3 linked regions of the Homo sapiens genome follow. The protein of the gene in region 3 interacts with the protein of the main gene of each other region in a pairwise test. Each region holds a gene or a part of one and is shown on either strand. Other genes may lie near its edges.

The links.
Region 1: the proteins of FAM222B (region 3) and CDCA4 interact in binary tests that used the Homo sapiens proteins (3 or more experiments, as listed by UniProt).
Region 2: the proteins of FAM222B (region 3) and BAG4 interact in binary tests that used the Homo sapiens proteins (3 or more experiments, as listed by UniProt).

What each region holds. Positions count from the first base shown.
Region 1 is NC_000014.9:105,011,062-105,018,086, forward strand, and holds part of CDCA4 (cell division cycle-associated protein 4), read right to left. Parts: intron 875-7,025; 5' UTR 869-874; coding exon 143-868; 3' UTR 1-142. UniProt on the Homo sapiens protein: May participate in the regulation of cell proliferation through the E2F/RB pathway. May be involved in molecular regulation of hematopoietic stem cells and progenitor cell lineage commitment and differentiation.
Region 2 is NC_000008.11:38,200,852-38,207,876, forward strand, and holds part of BAG4 (BAG family molecular chaperone regulator 4), read left to right. Parts: intron 1-6,660; coding exon 6,661-6,915; intron 6,916-7,025. UniProt on the Homo sapiens protein: Inhibits the chaperone activity of HSP70/HSC70 by promoting substrate release. Prevents constitutive TNFRSF1A signaling. Negative regulator of PRKN translocation to damaged mitochondria.
Region 3 is NC_000017.11:28,839,787-28,847,150, forward strand, and holds the start of FAM222B (protein FAM222B), read right to left. Parts: upstream 3,005-7,364; 5' UTR 2,896-3,004; intron 1-2,895.

The DNA of each region.
Region 1 (7,025 bases), on a different chromosome or scaffold from region 3:
GGTAATGGGCTGTTCTGGGATTTCTCAGAATCAGCAGACAGGGCAGCAAGGCTGGGCCGCTGGCGGCAGGCGCACCCTCCGTGGGAGCCAGTGCTCACGTGTCAATGCGTCAGAGGCGGCTGTGAGCACTCAGGGCTCCTGCTCAGGTCTCCACCAGGATCTCCACCACGTGGTCCAGCTCGCCCAGGTCGGACTTGCAGCTGGAGCTAGGGCCTGGGGTGGCCGGAGCCAAGCCCTCGAGCCCTTCGCAGGGGCCCGGCCTGGCACCCCCCATCATGCCTGTCAGTACTGTGTCCAGGTCGTAGTAGGGGCTGTCCACGTCTGAGAACAGCTCTTCCATGCAGCTGGGGTTTTTAGTCTCCAGCGTTTCAAATATCTGATCAAGTGACTTGTGAAAGCTTCCTCTGTTTTCTCGAGGGCCATCCATCTCCCAGGCGCTGCTCTGCAGGTGCCTTGGTGCCTGTGCTGAGGTGACTGGGCAAAGGTCAGAAACTGGACCCTGTGTGTGGCCGTCCCCCAAGCCAGGAGCAGGATGTGCCCCCTCTTGCCCCCACGCTGCACGGCACAGGATCTCCGTGGAGACCAAGCGGTCGAGCGGCGCCCGCTCTGCAGCCTGGGGTGCCACTGTGCGCCACGTCCCATCCTGCGTCATCTCCTCTTGGATCTGCCGGACCGTGTTGGCAATGAGGACTGAGCGGCACAGGTTGGGCTCCACAAGCATGTGGCAAAGCTGCAACTTCACCAGAGACATGTCCAGGAGCGACTGCCGCTGCAGGCTGTATGAGGACACTGTCTTCAAGCCGGCCAGGGCTCCCTCCACGTCTTCCTCGTGGCCAACACATTTCCTCTTCAGTCCTCGTGCAAACATTGTGTCCTGCAGAAACCAAGGAAGACACCACTTAGCACACGGCAGACTCTCTGCGGACAGCGCCCCTTGGATTTCGTCTGACTGCCCTCACTGTACGCAAGGAGCAGCGACTCCGTAACTGGCAGGGACTTGACAGAGCTGTAACTCCCTAACAGAGCTGAGACGTGGAGCCCAGTGGGAGACCCCCACCCCCAGATCAGCTGCCATCCTGCCTAAGCCAGGCACAGTCACGTTGTTAGAAACGACAAACCTCTCAACTGTACCACGACAGTGTTTTATAGCAAAAAAGATAAATGAACTAAAAATAGGAGAAATATATAAGAGAAATGTAAGTGTTCGAGAGCTTGGCTGAAAATCTGTTTCAAAAATCTAACTGTGGTGTGTACAAAAGAAGAGACCCTGGGGTAACATGAGATTAATGTGAACCGTGCCAGCCTGCAGAGGGCGCAGGGCGGGGGCCGGACAGGGCCGGGCACACACACGTACCATTCTGACTTCCCTCAGGATCCTGCCTCGGACAAAGTCACTTCTGCGTTCAGAAGAGTTAGTGCCTTCCCCCTCAATGCTTTCACTAAAAGCCTCTATATGTCGCAGACAGCCGGGCTGGAAAGCTGTGCCACCAGGAACGCGCAGGGGAAGGACTGCAGGGCTGTATGCTCATCCCATGCAGCGAGTGGTCTGTGTTTCGTGCACAATTCTCCAAGGGACACAGGGTCTCCTGGCCGAGCCTATGTGGCCCTGGACAGTCCCTTGCTCCCACACCCGCCCATGCTGCCTGCCTTAGGGATCACACCCATTCCTTGGCTCCCCCCACCCGCCCCACCAGTTCATTTCTCCCAAGGTGCACAGGCTCTGCCTGGCTGCTTTCTACTTGACATCTCTCAGGTCAATGCCCTCCACTCGAGAGCTCTGACCAGCCCGTACAACCATGGCCTCAGGGGCCACCTCCCCTCTCATCTCAACTCCTTTCTCTTCAAAGGAACCAAAACATGGCAGGGTATGTGTGTGTCCGGGGCAGGGGGGGTGGGTTCCTCACCAGTGTGTTGTGGCAGCCCAGAGCTGGCCAAGGCAGTGTTTCTCGGCGTATGCCTCAGCACTGGCGCTGTTGGTTGAAGATGCAGATTCCTGGATCTTACCCCAGACCTGGGCAACTCCGGGATGGCACCTAAGGCTCAGCCTTGCTGGGCAGGTTCCACTAAGACGCACAGCACAGATGCACTAGATGGACATTGGCCATGTCTACTCTCAGAAGTACAAGTCTGTGCAAACTGTTTTTTTTTTTTTTTAACTGATTCTAAATTGGGACATCTCTGGGGCACTAAAGGCAGAGCAGACAGGAGGGTGGGCTCTGGCTTTTGACAGATGCCATTCTGAGCCAGTGCCGCCTGCGGGGAGCTGGGAGGATGACAGCTGGCTCAGGGCCATACTGGCCGGCAGAGTCTGACAGGACAAGCATCTCACGCATGATTAAGTTTCTCTCTTCTCATGCTTGTAATGTAGTGAAATATTATTTCAAATAATTCAAGTTATGCATAAATAGGGTTACAATCTTTTGAATATGCAAACTTTGGAACTTCTTTTTCTCTTAGTCAATCTGATGGCTCCCTGTGACCAGGGTATACCCAGGTGCTCTTGGAAAGCTGGCGTATGGGAGGCACATGCTGTCTCTGCTCGGGGTCTGGAGACCAAGGATGGGAAGTTTTGCAGTGCGGGAGAACTGGCTGCCAAACATACCCCTTCCCAGGAGCCCCTCTGGAGGCTCCCACCTGCTGGTCCTACCCTTGAATTAACAGAAGAAAGGGTCCCCCTGTTCTCTGAATTTCCCTTCAGTGTCACAGATCTCATCCCCGTGCCTTTAACACATGTAAATTTTAAAAAACTAAGTGACCTCTTGGGCATTTATCCCAGAGAAAAAGCCAATGTTCATGCAAAAAACATGTTCCAGAATGTGCACAGCAGCTTTATTTGTAGTAGCTCCAAATCTGAAACAAGGAAAATGTACCCTTCACCTGGGCACGGTGACACACACTCTGCTCCATTCATGCCACCAAATCCTACTCTGCAATAGAAAGAAATGAACTGTTGATACACAGGACGGATCCTTCCACAGGGGCATTAGGCTGAGGGAGAAAAGCCAACCTCAGAAGGGTGCTTGCTATGGGATCCCATTTATGCCACATTGTCATGCTGACCCAGAGCTGAGGGGTGGCAGGGCTAGAAAGGAACCTGCGCAGGGAGATCTTGGGGGTGAGGGCCCTTCTGCTCCTGGGCTGTGGGGGTGGCCCTACCCTGACTGCACAGCGCCGGACACGCACACATGCGCCTGCGGCAGCCGTGTCATCACACGGACCTGGGGCCTGGCTGTGCATCCTACAAGGATGCCGGCCCTGGGGAGCAGAGGAAGGGCACATAGGACCTCCTGAACACTGCTCTGCAACCTCCCCTGGCTCTACAATTATTTCAAAATTAAAATTAAAGGAAAACTTCCCTAACCCTAGCTTATTTCCCCTACAGCACCCATTTCCCCAGAGCAGCATGCCAGTGTCACCACAGGCACAGCCCTCAGGCTGGGCACCGCCTCTCACACCTGCATACACCAGCTTCTCAACTAATTCTAAATGAAGGACAGTTTACCACCAAAACACATTTACACATTTCTATTACTTTTGGTAAATATTCGAGTTCTTTGTGTCAGCCACAAATTTAACTTTTCAGAGCTTTTCCATCCCAATCCATTGTTTAAATCACTGGCTTAAAATTGCTAAGTATATCGAGAATTAACATAAGGCTATGTCAAACTACAAAGGACACCCTGCGTTGGGGAAAAGATTAAGTCCCACGGGTTCCTCTGTGGGAAGTCAATATACCTTTTAGGTTTTTAGTTTCTCTTTCAACCTATCTCAATCCCAAGCCTGCATAGCAATGGATTAATTTAGGACCCAAACCAAATCCTCTTGAACAGCATGCATTAAGCCCAAGTTTATAGACAGAAGAACCCCTGGCTGCCTCCCCTGACTCTGGAAACCCAGCAGCACAACCCCCATAATGTGGGGCCTACAGGAGGTCAGCACGACTGAGCAGGGCAATCAGGGCAACTCACAGAAGGAACAAGAATACCAATGGGACAGGCCAAGAAGACCCACAACCACACTGGGAACCAGTTCAAGAAGCTGTCCCAAGCTCCTAGGACCCTCTGGGTCCCACTTTCCTTTCCTCTGAGTCCTTAGAAATGCCAGGTCCTGAGTCCAAACCCAACGACAGACCCTCCCGCCCTTTTCTGAAAGCCAGATATGGATACTAGAAGCCTCCCACTGGGGATCTTAAGAGGATGAATTCAGTGCTTGGCCTGGTGCTGTCAGCGGTCCTAAGGGCAGCACTAGCAATACGTGACCGTCAGAAATCACCCTAATAACATCTGCTCTGAGCGAGGGAATATACCAACAAACAATGGCGGAACCACATACAGAAACAGAACTCTCAGCCATTATCTGCCGCCATCAGTCGGAAACCAGCCCTTTACCTTCAGTAACGGGCCAGGAAGCCAGGTTGCCCTAGTCAGACCTGCAGGAAGCCTGGCTGCTTTCTCTAGGAACAATCCAGGAAGCTAAACAATCATTTCCATAGCAAGCAGCCCAAAATGGCCAGGACATGATTAGTAACCGACAACCTCTCCAGTTTTTGTCCCTGCTTCCAATTTAGGACCAACCAGAGAAAGCCAAACATGTTCTAGGCCATCTCACAGGAGCCCCACTTCTTTGTTGTTGTTGTTGTGTCGCCCAGGCTGGAGTGCAGTGGCGCAATCTCAGCTCACCGCAACCTCCGCCTCCCAGGTTCAAGGGATTCTCCTGCCTCAGCCTCCCGAGTAGCTGGGATTACAAGGGTGTACCACCAGGCCTGGCTAATTTTTATATTTTCAGTAGAGACTTACCATGTTGGTCAGGCTGGTCTCAAAACTCCTGACCTCGGGTGATCCACTCACCTTGGCCTCCCAAAGTGCTGGGACTACAGGCGTCAGCCACCGTGCCAGGCCAGGAGCCCCACTTCTAACTGGCCACCCCAGTCCCCCAAGTCAGCAGCCTCCATCAGCCATCCCTGAGCTTCCCTGGATTCCACTGTAAAGCTCTCCTGTTCCCTCACCTGCCTATGAGTTTCTGCCAATCACGAGAGAGGAGGGCCGCACCCTTGCTAGGGGAAGCTCTGGATAAACAGCCTCTGCCTGTTCTCACCTGGTTGCTTATTTCCACAGCTCACCATAGACAATCTGGAAGAGCATCAAAAACCATAAAACGAATTTTCTCCCAGGATCCCATCCACTCAGAAAAACACAGTCACCACCTGGGTTCCTCCTTTCCAGTCGTTTCTCCCAGCACTTTCCTCTCTGCACAAGGGAGGGAAGTTTCACACTACTGACAATTTTCCCAATCACAAATGATACCAGTTTCTAACTTTAGGTGTTTTGGTATTTCTAGCATTTGGCTTCCTTAGCCTCGGCTCTTTACTTACTAGGGTGATGTGCAGGTACATTTTTAAGAGGCTTGATAAACATTATTAAACTGCATCCTAAGAAGGTGGAACGCTCCACCAACTTTCTCCCGCACTATTTCTGCACACTTGCTGGTAAAGCTTCCTCTTGTTTTGCCAAGTCTCTAAGCCCCACAGCTAAGCGTTCCTTCCCTCCTCCACTGAGCTCCACGTCTGTGTTCCTACCCTGTTCCACGGCTGCTCTCCTGCCAGGACCAGACACCCTGGCCTCCCTGTGTAGGTCCTTTTCTGGCCATGCCACCCTTCAGCTCTGGGTCAGCCCAACAATGTGGCATAAATGGGATCCCACAGCAAGCACCCTTCTGAGGTTGGCTTTTCTCCTTCAGCATAATTCTCTTGAGATCCTTGCAAACTCTTGTGTGTCAACAGTTCCCAACAGAGTAGGATCTGGAGGCACAGACGGAGCAGAGTGTCACCACACCCCAGCTGAAGGGAACTTTTTCCTTGTTTCCAGTTTGGAGTTATTACACATAAAGCTGCTATGGACATTCTAGAACATGTTTTTGCATGAACATTGGTTTTTCATTTCTCTTGGATAAATGCCAAAGAAATAATCGTTTTATAAAATTTAGGAGTGTTAAATGCACAGGCAATGAGATCTATCACACCGAAAAGAAATTCAGAGAACAGGGGGAACCTTTTTTCTGTCTATTCAAGGACAGGACCAGCAGGTGTGAGCCTCCAGAGAGGCTCCTGGGGAGGTGGGGGGCGGTCCTTGGCCTAGTTTCATCACTCTCAGTTGTAAGCATTCTTTTTTTTTTTAGATGGAGTCTCACTGTCGCCCAGGCTGGAGTGCAGTGGTGCAATCTCGGCTCACTGCAACCTCCACCTCCTAGGTTCAAGCGATTCTCCTGCCTCATCTTCCCTCAACTTCCCGAGTAGCTGGGATTATAGGCGTGCACCACCACGCCCAGCTAGTTTTTTGTATTTTTAATAGAGCCGGGGTTTCGCCATGTTGGCCAGGCTGGTCTCGAACTCCTGACATCAAGTGATTTGCCCACCTCGGCCTCCCAAAGTGCTAGGATTACAGGAGTGAGCCATCACACCCAGCCACAAGCATTCTTTTAGGACTTAAACAGCCCGGGCACAGTGGCTCATGCCTGTAATCCCAGCACTTTGGGAGGCTGAGGCAGGCGGATCACCAGGTCAGGAGATTGAGACCATCCTGGCCAACACGATGAAACCCCATCTCTACTAAAAATACAAAAGATTAGTCAGGTGTGGTGGCACGTGCCTGTAGTCCCAGCTACTCGGGAGGCTGAGGCAGGAGAATTGCTTGAACCTGGAAGGCGGAGGTTGCAGTGAGCAGAGATTGCACCACTGCACTACAGCCTGAACAACAGAGCGAGACTCCGTCTCAAAAAAAAAACACACACACACAAAAAAAACACTTAAAACAAGTTGAATGTATACGATCTGGTGTATTCTGACAAAGGAATGCAACTCAGCAACATACCTCAATGATTTATGCAACACGGATAAATTTCAAAACATTATGCTGAATAAAAGCAGCAAGACACACACAAAAATATGTACCGTAGGATTCTATTGATCTGAACCTTCAGGACAGGCAAAGCTAATCTAAGTTGTGAAAACACAGAAGGGTAGCCACCAT
Region 2 (7,025 bases), on a different chromosome or scaffold from region 3:
CCTCCCAAAGTGCTGGGATTACAGGCATGAGCCACCATGCCTGGCCAGGCAGCTGAGATTTTTATTGAGATTGCATCATAGATCAGTTTGGAGAGTAGCATGTGTACTTTTATAGTTAATGTAAGAGGGAGACAAAACTCATAGTCATGAATTATAAGTTAATGTTAATTTTTCTGATTTCACTGATCTTACTGATAAAGATTGCTTTTTCTCATAACATTTTCCCCCTTAGGTAAAAGTATTTATTACATTCATATGTAGGTTCAAAAAAGATTAACTTATAATTTAGTAGTAACTTTTTAAAAGCAACAGTAATAATGTGCAAATGTTTTTAGATACAACATACAAGTTGTTGGATTTAAAATAACCCAAAGGTGTCTAGACATACACCTTTTTGAGGTGAGCACATGTGTATTTTCTGGCGAAACATCACATGGGGATTATACATTTATCATCATCTTTTTTTTGTTTGTTTCTTGAGATAGATAGTCTTGCTCTACCACCCAGTTCATTGTAGTGGCATAATCATAGATCACTGTAACCTTGAACTCCTGGACTTAAGTGATCCTCCTGTCTCAGTGTCCTAGGTACAGGTGCGTGCAACCACACCTGGTTTAATTTTTAAATATTTTGCAGAGATGGGGTCTCATTATGTTGCCTAGGCTGGTCTTGAACTCCTGGGCTCAGGTGATCCTTCTACCTCAGCATCCCAAAGTGTTGGGATTACAGGCGTGAGCCATTGCACTTGGTCTAGCTTCTATCCAAGATAGACTCCTATAGTGGTATATAGATATGACTGGTTTCCTTTTTAAAAAATTAAGCAGTATCATGTCTTTACCTTCCGGCTACCTCCTTGGGTTAGCCTTGCCACATGGTCATTCTTCTGTTTGGTTGGTTTTATAAATCTTAAAAATTCTCATTCAAAAGTAGCTATAATAAGCCAAGAATATGTAATTTCATGCATTTATTCTGAGTGTGGAATTTATATATATATATATATATATATATATATATATATATATATATATATTTTTTTTTTTTTTTTTTTTTTTTTTTTTAAGAAGCTGTTAATGTTGCTAAGGTGTCTGACCAATCTTCCAAGTTGATTAGCCTGCCATGTGCCAGGTGCAGTTTATGTGCTATGCAAGTATTAGGGCAGCATTTGAACTAAAGCCTTCCTCATTTTTCAGAACTTCATTCTTTAACTAATAGTGTGGACTCTTGAGAGGAGCATGGAGGGCGATTCATGGAGTAGGGTGTGAACAGCACGGAAGTTCACAATCTCAGGCTGTATCTCTGGAAGCAGAAGATATTGTCTCACCCAACTGTTAATAAAGTTCGTGAGGTTTTCTCAGTATTATTCAAACTCGGTTGAGTTGCTTCTGCTTTGTTCTTAAGTCCTTCTTTTTCCTTTTCTTTTCTTTCTTTTTTTGAGACCAGGTCTCCCTCTGTCACCCAGGCTGGAGTACAGTGGTATGATATTGGCTTACTGCAACCTCCACCTCCTGGGCTCAAGCGATCCTCCCACTGCAGCCTCCTGAGTAGCTGGGACTACAGGCACATGCCACCATTCCCAGCTAATTTTTGTATTTTTTGTAGAGAGGGGGTTGCCCCCGCTTATCTTAAACTCTTTGAGTTTAAGCAGTCCACCTGCCTTGGCCTTCCAAAGTGCTAGGATTACAGGCATGAGCCACTGTGCTCGGCCCCCTTTTTTTTTTTTTTTCTGTTTCTCAGGCTGGAGTGCAATGGCATGATCACAGCTCACTGCAGCCTCAATCTCCTCTGGCTCAGGTGATCCTCCCACCTTAACTGCTTGAGTGGCTGGGACCTTAGGCATACGCCACTACACCTGGCTAATTTTTGTATTTTTTGTAGAGATGGGGTCTCACTTTGTTGCCCAGGCTGGTCTGGAACTCCTGACCTCAAGCGATCCACCTGCCTTGGTCTCCCAAAGTGCTAGAATTACAAGAATGAGCTACCACGCCTGGCCAAGTCCTTCATTTTTATGACATACTTTAATATGTAACAGAAATCTGTTCTGAAGTCCTAGAAGCATTTTCTTCCTTTTTGGATTCCGTCTTATGACTCTAAATGGTGCAAGGAACTCCTGTATTTTCTTTGCTGTGCTCCAAGTGTCAACCTAAAATAACAACAGAGAGAAGGACTCTTCAAAGAAATGAATCTGTTTGGAAATAAACAGAGAATTACAATTTCAGATGCGCATACCATAGATAATCATCCCCTACATATCTGGAGAAGTTGTAGTAAGGGGAAACTTTTAAAGGGAAAGAGGAGAAGTCCATATAAGCTGTTTTGAGACAAACATCATTGGTCACAGGGGCCTGTTGTAGGAGCTGATGTTACTGGAAACTCATTGCTAAGCGAGTGTTCTTATGAAGATGGCTTATGTGAAACTGCAGTCTTGAGGAATTTTTTTTTTTTCTTTTTTTGGACAGAGTTTCACTCTGTCGCCCAGGCTGGAGTGCCATGGCACGATCTTGGCTCACTGCAAGCTCCGCCTCCCGAGTTCACGCCATTCTCCTGCCTCAGCCTCCTGAGTAGCTGGGACTACAGTCGCCTGCCACCACGCCCAGCTAATTTTTTTGTATTTTTAGTAGAGACAGGGTTTCACCGTGTTAGCCAGGATGGTCTCGATCTCCTGACCTCGTGATCCGCCCACCTTGGCCTCCCAAAGTGCTCAGATTACAGGTGTGAGCCACCGTGCCTGGTTGAGGAATTTTTTGTGATAAGTCCTGTTACAGACATATGTAGGACAAGCAAGATGAGTAGGGCCTACAGGGATTTTTTGTGAGTTTTTAGAAAGCCCTGTGATATAGGCTGGGTGCAGTGGCTCATACCTGTAGTCCAAGCTACTTGGGAGGCTGAGGCAGGAGGATAACTTGAGCCTGGGAGATCTAGGCTGCAGTGAGCTATGATGGTGCCACTGTACTCTAGCCTGGGTGACAGAGTGAGACCCTGTCTCAAAAAAAAAAAAAAAAAAAGTCCTTGTGATAATACTTATCGCAGACATGTGTGCATGAGATCCCCTCCTTCGTGACCTCCCCCTCCATTTTGGGTCTGATGTAAGTGACTCCATCTTGGCATTGGCAACTTTCACACAAGCTGCTTTTCAGACAAAGACTTAAAAACTTTGCCACGTTTCTGAAATAGGATCTTTAGCTCATCCTTAACAAACATCTTTAGCAACTGCAAGGCTGTTATATAATCTGATTCTGTGTTCTTTTGTAAACATGCATGTGACAGCTTTGTGATCTGTCAGGACAGTGGTTATTTGGGAAAAGAAGCAATGAACTCATGAAGGCATCTCAAAACCAGGAAGTAATTCCAGGAATCAAGGAAATTTTCAAGCATCAAAAGTAATGGCTGGCCAGATGTGGTGGCTCACACCTGTAATCCCAGCACTTTGGGAAGCTGAGGCGAGTGGATTGCTTGAGCCCAGGAGTTCGAGATCAGCCTGGGCAACATGGCCAAACCCTGTCTCTACAAAAAATACAAAAATTAGCCAGGCATGGTGGTGCATGCCTGTGGTCCCAGTTACTTAGGATGCTAAGGTGGGAGGATTGCTTGAGCCCGGAGTTTGAGGCTGCAGTGAGCCGTGATTGTGCCACTGCATTCTACCCTGGGTGTCTTGGGGAGAAAAAAAGTAATGGCCAGGCATGGTATAATCCCAGCACTTTGGGAGGCTGAGGTGCCAGGATCACTTCAGCCTAAAAGTTTGAGACTAGCCTGGCAACATAGCGTGACCTCATTTCTATTTAAAGAAAAACAACAACAACGAAAAAAAAAACAAAAACAACGCCTGTGAGAAGGGAAAAAGAAAAAAAATAAACAACAAAAGCCACATAAAAGCAATGAGAATCACACACTAAAGTAACATGAACCCATCTATTGGTTTCAATGGGTTATCAGTACATGGCCGTCGTGTATTTATTCTTGGAGTATTTCCTTGGAGTATTTTGAAGCAATTTCAGATATCATTTTATCACTTATAAATACCTAAGTATGTTTCTTTAAAATATAAGGAAGTTTTAAAAACATAACCACAATGTTTTTAAACATTTTTAATTAAAAATTAAAACTTAAAAGGAAAAAAACAACCTTAAAAATAATTATTTCATATCATTAAATATCTGGTCAGTTCTAACAGTAAAATATTTATTTAGTTAGTTAGCTAGTTGAAGACAGGGTCTTACTGTCACCCAGGCTAGAGAACAGTGGCTTGATTATAGCTCACTGTAACATTGAACTCCTAGGCTCAAACGATCCTCCTGCCTCAGCCTCCTGTGTAGCTAAGGACTATAGCTGTGCCATACCACGCCCAGCTAATTAATTTTTTTTTTTTTTTTTTTTTTTTTTTTTGTAGAGATGAGGTCTTGCTGTTTGCACAGGCTGTTCTCAGACTCCTGGGCTCAAGCAATCCTCCCACCTTGGCTTCCCAAAACGCTGGGATTTTTACAGGCATGAGTCTGTGCGCCTAGCCATAACAATAAAATTTGAAGACTGAATACAATTTTTTCAATGAATAGTCTTTAATCTACTTAAAGATTCCATTGTTATAGGACATTTAGGTAGTTTACAATTTTGTGTGATTGTAAATAATGCTGCGATGAAGAACTTCATGTCTATAACTTTTTCTCTAGTTGAATCATTTCCTTAGGATTTCTAGAAGTTGAATAACAGTACAAAAAGTCACATAATGTTTTATTAAGTCTCCAATTGTGTGTGTGATGTATTACGGAGTTCTTTGTTTATGCCCGAAGACCTTAACAGCCTCTTAGTAGTTTTAACATAGTGGTGGTTCATGGTCTTCTGCTCAGGGAATGCATTGCTGACTGTTTATTATACCTCATCCTGCATGGAATTCTTTGGTCATGGGTATCCTCATACCTAAAGTGGGAAAGATTATATAGTCTTCGAGATAGAGATGAGTATAGGAAAACTGGATTCTGTGTTTTCACTGTTTTTAAAGGGTAAAGTAGAAATTAATAGAACACGTTGAGGTGATCATTTAAATTTAGCATTAAGCTTGAATCTTTTTTTAAAAATTACTTTTTTTTTTTTTTTTAAATAGATGGGGTTTGACTATATTCCTGAGGCTGGTCTGTAACTCCTGAGCTCAAGTGATCCTCCCTCCTAGGCTGGATGCAGTAGCTCATGCCTGTAATCCCAGCACTTTGGGAGGCTGAGGCGGGTGGATATGAGGTCAGGAGTTCGAGACCAGCCTGGCCAAGATGGTGAAATCCCATCTCTACTAAAAGTACAAAAATTATAGCATGCCTGTAATCCCAGCTACTTGGGAGGCTGAGGCAGGAGAATCGCTTGAATCTGGGGGGTGGAGGTTGCAGTGAGCCAAGATCTTGCTACTGCACTCCAGCCTGGGTGACAGAGCAAGACTCCATCTTAAAAAAAAAAAAAAAAGTGATCCTCCCTTCTCAGCCTCCCAAAGTGCTGGGATTACAGGCATGAGCCTGTGCGCCTGCCTAGCTTGAATCTTGTTTGGATTATTAAACTGAGGATTCTGGGTGTGGATAAGAGTCTGAATAGGTTATTTAAAACTACAGTGAGCAATATATGAGGAGTTTGTTGTTGGTATCATTTGGGATGCAGAGTGATGGTGTAATACAAAGAACTGGACTTCAGAGTCAGATCTGGGTTCATGTCATGACCCAGCCATGATAATACTAACAACAGTCATAATACAAATAATTACCATTTATTGAGCATACTATATGCCAGACACTATGCTAAACCTTTTATATATGTCATCTTATTTAATTTTGACAGTAATCCTCAAAGATACGTTTATGATCTTCATTTTCCTGATGGAGAAACTGAAGTTAGGGAAGGTTAAATACAAAGCCTATGGCAGAGCTAGGTCTGTCTCTATAGTCTTTTTAAATAATTTTTTTGTTTTCTTATACTTTCTGAGACAGAGTCTCACTCTGTTGCCCAGGCTGGAGTGCAGTGGTACAACCATGACTCACTGCAGCCTTGACCTCCTGGGCTCAAGCAATCCTCTCACCTCAGCCTCCTGAGTAGCTTGGACTACAGATGTGTGCCATGAGGCCTAGATAATTTTTTTTTTTTTTTTTTTTTTGAGATGAAGTCTTACTCTTGTCCCCCAGGCTGGAGTGCGATGGCACGATCTTGGCTCACTGCAACCTCCGCCTCCTGGGTTCAAGCGATTCTCCTGCGTCAGCCCCCCGAGTAGCTGGGATTACAGGCGCCTGCCACCATGCCCGGTTAATTTTTGTATTTTTAGTAGAGATGGGGTTTCACCATTTTGGCCAGGCTGGTCTAGAACTCCTGACCTCAGGTGACCCACCCGCCTCGGCCTCCCAAAGTGCTAGGATTACAGGCTTGAGCCACTGTGCCTGGCAATGCCTGGCTAATTATTTTATTTTATTTTTGTAGAAACAGGGTCTCACTATGTTGTCCAGGCTGGTCTCAAACTCCTGACCTCAAATGATTCTCCCACCTTGGGCTCCCAAAGTGCTGGGATTACAGGCATGAGCCACTGTGCCTGGCCTGCATTAGTGATTAACATCTTCTCAAAGTTTTCAAGTTTAGGCATTAAGTCAGGGCATTTCAGCTCTTCTACTAATTCATCTTTTTTTCACTCAACTTGGTTTTTTTCAGAGTTTGAATTCTTATACAAATGGAGCGTATGGTCCAACATACCCCCCAGGCCCTGGGGCAAATACTGCCTCATACTCAGGGGCTTATTATGCACCTGGTTATACTCAGACCAGTTACTCCACAGAAGTTCCAAGTACTTACCGTTCATCTGGCAACAGCCCAACTCCAGTCTCTCGTTGGATCTATCCCCAGCAGGACTGTCAGACTGAAGCACCCCCTCTTAGGGGGCAGGTTCCAGGATATCCGCCTTCACAGGTGAGTTGTTTTCTATTGGGAAAAAAATGAATTCAAAGTCTCTGCCTCTTGTAAACAGTGGAAGAGCATCTGTTCATACTAGTGCTGATTTAATAAGACACTTCTAGATT
Region 3 (7,364 bases):
AAAAAGGTTAAAATTATACATCACTGTGCATTTCCAGGAAAGAAAAGTGAAACACATTTTACCAGACAGAGAAGTTAAAAACAACCAGGTTCATTTTTCCCATTCCTGTAAATTCACTCCCCTTATTTGTGAATCTTCAAGAATCTAGTATAGCCCCTCCCTACCTTTACTCAGGTAAAAGACCAATCACTCATCAATTGCCAAAACGCCTTGACAGTTTAAGGTCTCAATCCTCAGAGTCAGCAAAGCTGAAGTGTCTATGTCCTTTTAAAAGGAGTCTGCATCTCTACTTTAGAAACCATTTTCTCACTGCGCTTGGTGGCTTACGCCTGTGATCCCAGCACTTTGGGAGGCCGAGGCAGGCGGATCACCTGGTTCGAAACCAGCCTGACCAAAATGGCGAAACCCCATCTCTACTAAAAATACAAAAACTAGCCGGGCATGGTGGTGGGTGCCTGTAATCGCAACTACTTGGAGGCTGAGGCAGGAGAACTGCTTGAACCCGGGAGGTGGAGGTTGCAATGAGCCGAGATTGCGCTACTGCACTCCAGCCTGGGCGACAGAACAAGACTCTGTGTCAAAACAAAATAAAATAAAAAGAACCCATTTTCTCTTTCCATAAACACATAGTTTGTCCTCTGCTTTGTCTACATTAAAAAACACGTCTCAGGAGTGTTTCTTCAGCCTCTCAGGAAAACCAAGACACCTCTTGGGCTCCTCTTCTGAGATATTCCACCTGAGAGATCCCACTGACAAGCAGGGTAACAAAAAGCAGAGCTAGAGGGCTGCCTTATGCATATCTGACCTCCAAAACAGCGACAGGTCCCCGGAGCAGCCAGAGACTCCTTTGCAAAGGAGAACTTTTTATAATTTAAAAATAATAAAATGGGCCAAGCACGGTGGTTCACGCCTGTAATCCCAGCACTTTGGGAGGCTGGGGCGGGCGGATCACCTGAGGTCAGAAGTTTGAGACCAGCCTGTCCAGCAATGGAGAAACCCCGAGTGTACTAAAAAAAATACAAAAATTAGCCGGGTATGGTGGCACGTGCCTATAATCCCAGGTACTAGGGAGGCTGAGGCAGGAGAATTGCTTGAACCCAGGAGGCGGAGGTTGCAGTGAACCAAGTTCGCACCACTGCACTCCAGCCTGGGTGACAGAGCAAGACTCCTTCACCCACCTCAAAAAAAATTATAATAAAATAAAATAAAAATAAAGATAACAAAATAGCCAGGCACGGTGGCTCACGCCTGTAATCCCGGCACTTTGAGAGGCCGAGGTGGGTGGATCACCTGACGTGAGGAGTTCAAGACCAGCCTGGCCAACATGGTGAAACCCCATCTCTACTAAAACTACAAAAATTAGCCAGGCGTGGTGGTGGGCATTTGTAATCCCAGCTACTCAGGAGGCTGAGACAGGAGAATCGCTTGAACCCGGGAGGCGGAGGTTGCTGTGAGCCGAGATGATGCCACTGCACTCCTGCCTGGCGACAGAGCGAGACTCCGTCTCAAAAATAAAATAAAATATAATAAACAAATTATATTTTCACATCCCTCACTGGGCAGCCCTCCCAGCTTGTCTCAAACTAGTTTTCTTAACTCTTTTTTCCAGACGGAGTCTCGCACTGTCACCCGAACTGGAGTGCAATAGCACTATCTCGGCTCACCGCAACCTCTGCCTCCCGGGTTCGAGTGATTCCCCTGCCTCAGCTTCCCAAGCAGCTGGGATTACAGGCGCCCGCCACCACACCCGGCTGATTTTTTGTATTTTTAGTAGAGACGGGATTTCACTACGTTGGCTAGGCTGGTCTCCAACTTCTGACCTCGTGATCCGCCCGCCTCGGCCTCCCAAAGTGCTGGGATTACAGACATGAGCCACTGCACCCGGCCTTTTCTCAACTCGTTAAAGCACATTAGTGCCAACTGTGTTATAAGGCAACATGAGTTAGCTATGTTCAGAAAATATTTTAATAGATTGGCCCTCCATCCTTTCGGGTGAGGAGCTGCAAACCGTTTGTAAAAACGCCGGAGTACGGTATTTTTCCTACAGAAGTCTGATGGCTAATTTATCACATTACAGAACTGGTAGTTCTGCACATGGTCTGCTGTGCCCATAAAGAAAGCACATATGTGTCTACTGAGGTTTTACAAACAATACGCTTCTTATCTTAACAGAGAAATCAGTCATTCCATTAACAACGGTAAGGTCTAAATTCCACTAACATTGTTGGTGATACATTAACATCAACATAGTACTTACAATTCACAATTTGCATAAACAATCTCAATTACATAGGTGATGCTTGCAATAGCCCGTTTGAAGCATGACATCTTCCTGGTGTTCAGAAAGGTTAAGTGGGACCTGCCCAAGGTTACCTAACAGCTTTATCAATGGTGGACTTCCTTTCGAACCTGCCTGACTCTAAGCCCCTAGCTCTTTTCCCTAGACCCCTCCCGGCTTTCAAAAGAGGGTTCCCGACTCCCATCCTCTACCCAGAGCAGCCTATTACTCCGGGAGACCGACCCTTCCCCTGCCTGGTTCAGAGGTGGCTTCTTAAGCTCCAGCAGAGCTTTCATCCTCCACCACCCTCCCCCCGCAATCATTCTCTGAAAGAAGCGGAAAGGAGAGGCGACCAAAAGCTCCTGGAGGAAGGGATGATACAAATGGGCTGCTTCACTCCACAGCACGCAACCCCGTCCCCCTCCACCAAGCTGTCCAGCTCTGCGGCCGGCGACCGGGCCACCCGTGCCCCAAATTCTCCCATCATCACCTCAAACTGTACCTCCCCCACGCCCTTCCGTCTCCCACAGTCAGAGCCCACCCCACAAAGTCATGTATCCTTCCGCTAAGTTACCCTCTTCCCACGCGTTGTCCACTCCCCCTCCACCACTACTCACGGTCGGTGACTGGGCCCGGCCCTCATGGCTGCTCCTTTGCCGCCCGCCGCCCGCCGCCACCACTTCTCCACTGCCCGGCCCCTCAGTCACCGGCGCAGCTGTGGGGACTACCCGGAGCCGCTCCTGCGCCTGCGCAGCGTGTAGCGCCTGGGCCCTTTCGGGCCGCACGCGCCTGCGCAGCCCCTGCCGGGGGCGTCTTCCTCAGTGCCTGATGGTCTGGACCCCTGGGTCTCTAGTGGACATGGGAGCTGGCCTTGAAGAATTCTGAGGCTTAGAGAATTTGGCGGCTGCCTCAGGGTACGCCTCTGGAGTACCGTGCCTAGGTTACTAAACCCTTGGATCGCGCTTCCCCAAGGAGCCACAGACTTACTGGCTCTTCCAGAATTCTGCATCCTACTTGCACTTAAAGGCCTGAATTCAGGTGCTCTGAGGTGACCACTGATGATAAATTTGGGTCTTTTTTTTTTTTTTTCTGAGTCGAAGTTTCGCTCTTGTTGTCCAGGTTGGAGTGCAATGGCGTGATCTCGGCTCAAACAACCTCCGCCTCCCGGGTTCAAGCGATTCTCCTGCCTCAGCCTCCCGAGTAGCTGGGATTACAGGCATGCACCACCACGCCCAGCTAATTTTGTATTTTTAGTAGAGACGGGGTTTTATCATGTTGGTCAGGCTGGTCTCGAACTCCCGACCTCAGGTGATCCACCCACCTCAGCCTTCTAAAGCGCTGGGATTACAAGCATGAGCCACCGCGCCCAGCCTGGGTCTTTTTTTTTTTTTTTTTTTTTTGAGACGGAGTTTTGCTCTTGTTGCCCAGGCTGGAGTGCAGTGGCGCGATCTCAGCTCACTGCAACCTCCGCCTCCCGGGTTCAAACGATTCTCCTGCCTCAGCCTCCTGACTAGCTGGGATTACAGGCTTGCACCACCACGCCTGGCTAACTTTTGTATTTTTAGTAGAGACGGGGTTTCACCATGTTGGCCAGGCTGGTCTCGAACTCCTGACCTCAGATGATTCGCCCGCCCCGGCCTCCCAAAGTGCTGGGATTACAGGCCTGAGTCACCATGCCTGGTAAAATTTGGGTCTCTTTCAAGATGATCGTGTCTAGAATGTATCGGGGGTAATTATGTAAAGGCAGCTTTGCCATCCTAGAATACGCTACTAGCTAGGAGGTGCAATGAAGTCCTGGGGACCTTGTCAAGGAGGTGACCTCGCCTAGAATGCACTGGGGACACCGCTAAGTTCAGTATGTTTATCAAGCACATGCTGTTTATTGGACAGAAATGTTCTAGGCATCGCGTGTATGCTATTGAGGAATTCGCAGGCAAATAGTCCCCTGCTTTCCAGCTCTCACTGTGAGCCTGGCCCTTTTTCAAACTGGTAAAAGAAAACCACTAAAGTCCAGTGAGGCCCAACTGTCAGTCCCTAGACTACTGTGCTGCTTTGGCATAGCCTGACAAGAGACTAAGCTCAATCGAGTCCTGAGAATTCAACAAAACAGACTTGAAAGCAGCAGGCAAGAGGAGGTACAGGACTAAACTCTCTCCTCATCACCATGGCTCTTTTTTCTCTCTCAACTCCAGCGCTGGTCTCCTCTCTTCAGAGTTTGGACACATAAGGCCCAAGATACAACGTAAGGGGGAAAAAGAGAAGAAAAAAAGACAAGTTGAGTGCTCAATGAGGAATGTTAAAAAAATTTAAATAGGCCAGGTGCAGTGGCTCACGCCTGTAATCCCAGCACTTTGGGAGGCCGAGGCGGGCGGATCATGAGGTCAGGAGATCGAGACCATCCTGGCTAACACGGTGAAACCCCGTCTCACTAAAAATACAAAAAATTAGCCGGGCGTGGTGGCGGGCGCCTGTAGTCCCAGCTACTCAGGAGGCTGAGGCAAGAGAATGGCGTGAACCCGGGAGGCGGAGCTTGCAGTGAGCCGAGATCAAGCCACTGCATTCCAGCCTGGGCGACAGAGCGAGACTCCGTCTCAAAAGAAAAAAAAATTAAAAATAAAGCTGGGCATAGTGACTTATGCTTGTAATCCCAACATTTTGGGAGGCCAGGTTGGGAGGATTGCTTGAGCCCAGGAGTTAGAGACCAGCCTGGGCAACATAGGGAGACTCATCTCTACAAAAAATCTAAAAAATAGTGGCCAGGCAAGATAGCTCATGCCTGTAAACCCAGCACTTTGGGAGGTTAAGGCGGGCGGATCACTTGAAGCCAGGAATTCGAGACCAGCCTGGCCAACACGGTGAAACCCTGTCTCTACTGAAAAAATACAAAAATTATCTGGGCATGGTGGCATGCACCTGTAGTCCCAGCTACTCAGGAGGCTGAGGCAGGAAAATCGCTTGAACCCAGGAACGGAGGTTACAATGAGCCGAGATCGCACCACTGCACTCCAGCCTGGATAACAGAGTGAGACTCCATCTCAATTAAAAAAATAAATAGGGCCGGGCGCGGTGGCTCAGGCCTGTAATCCCAGCACTTTGGGAGGTCGAGGTGGGCGGATCACGAGGTCAGGAAATCGAGACCATCCTGGCTAACACGGTGAAACCTCATCTCTACTAAAAATATAAAAAATTAGCCGGGCATGGTGGCGGGCCCCTGCAGTCCCAGCTACTTGGGAGGCTGAGGCGGGAGAATGGCGTGAAGCCCGGAGGCAGAGCTTGCAGTGAGCCAAGACGGTGCCACTGCACTCCAGCCTGGGGACAGAGCGAGACTCCATCTCAAAAAAAAAAAATACAAAAATACAAAAAAATTGGCTGGGCGTGGTGGTGGGCGCCTGTAGTCCCAGCTACACGGGAGGCCGAGGCAGGAGAATGGCATGAACTGGGAAGCGGAGCTTGCAGTGAGCCGAGATCGCGCCACTGCACTCCAGCCTTGGCGACAGAGCGAGACTCTGTCTCAAAAAAAAAAGGAAAAAAAGAAAAAATAAATAAATAGGCCAGGCACAGTGGGTCACACCTGTAATCCCAGCACTTTGGGAAGCCGAGGTGGGCAGATCATAAGGTCAGGAGATCGAGACCATTCTGGCTAACACGGTGAAACCCCATCTCTACTAAAAATACAAAAAATTAGCCGGGCATGGTGGCGGGTGCCTGTAGTCCCAGCTACTTGGGGGGCTGAGGTGGGACAATCAATTGAACCCGGGAGGTGGAGGTTGTAGTGAGCCAAGATTGCGCCACTGCAATCCAGCCTGGGTGACAGAGCAAGGCTCCATCTCAAAAAGAAAAATAAATAAATAAATAAGGGTTGGGCCTGGTGGCTCACGCCTGTAATCTCAGCACTTTGGGAGGCCAAGGCGGGTGGATCACGAGGTCAGGAGATCGAGACCATCCTGGCTAACACGGTGAAACCCCGTCTCTACTAAAAATACAAAAAATTAGCTGGGCATGGTGGCGGGCGCCTGTAGTCCCAGGTACACAGGAGGCTGAGGCAGGAGAACGGCGTGAACCCAGGAGGTGGAGGTTGCAGTGAGCCGAGACCATGCCACTGCACTCCAGCCTGGGCGACAGAGCAAGACTCCATCTCAAAAAAAAAAAAAAAAATTAGCTGGATGTGGTGGTGCACACCTGTGGTCCCACCTACTTGGGAGGCTGAGGTGGGAGAATCACTTGAACCCAGGAGGCAGAGGTTGCAGTGAGCCTAGACTACACTACACCGCAGCCTAAGGAACCGAGTGAGACTGTGTCTCAAAAAAATTTTTTTAATTAAAAAAAAAATGTTCAGGCCAGGTACGGTGACTCACGCCTGTAATGTCATCACTTTGGGAGGTGGAGTAGGCGGAGTTTGAGACCAAGCTGGGCCACATGGTGAAAACCCGTCTGTACAAAAAAATTACCAAAAAATTAGCCGGGTGTGGTGGCCCGCATCTGTAGTCCCAGCTACTTGGGAGGCTGAAGAGCGAGGATTGCTTGGGTCTGGGAGGCGGAGGTTGCAGTGAGATTCAACCATTGCACTCCAGCCTAGGGGAGCCAGACTCCATCTCAGTAAGAATAAAATTTTCCTCTTAAAAAAGAAAAGAAAATCCTCTATTAACCCCACAGCCCTCTCCTGCTCAATATTGGTCCTCAATATCCAAGGGTTCAGCATCTAGGAATTCAACCATCCGAAGAACAAAAATATCTGGGGAAAGGCCAAACGTGGTGTCTCATGCCTGTAAACTCAGCACTTGGGGAGGCCAAGGCAGAGGACCATTTGAGGCCAGGAGTTCGTGACCAGCCTGGGCAACGTAGTGAGACTCTGTCTCTGCAAAAGATTTAAAAATTAGCGCTGGGCGTGGTGGCTGACGCCTGTAATCCCAGCACTTTGGGAGGCCTAGGTGGGTAGATCACCTAAGGTCAGGAGTTCGAGACCAGCCTGACCAACATGGAGAAACCCCATCTCTACTAAAAATACCAAATTAGCCGGGCATGGTGGAACATGCCTGTGATCCCAGCTACTCGGGAGGCTGAGGCAGGAAAATCGCTTGAACCCCAG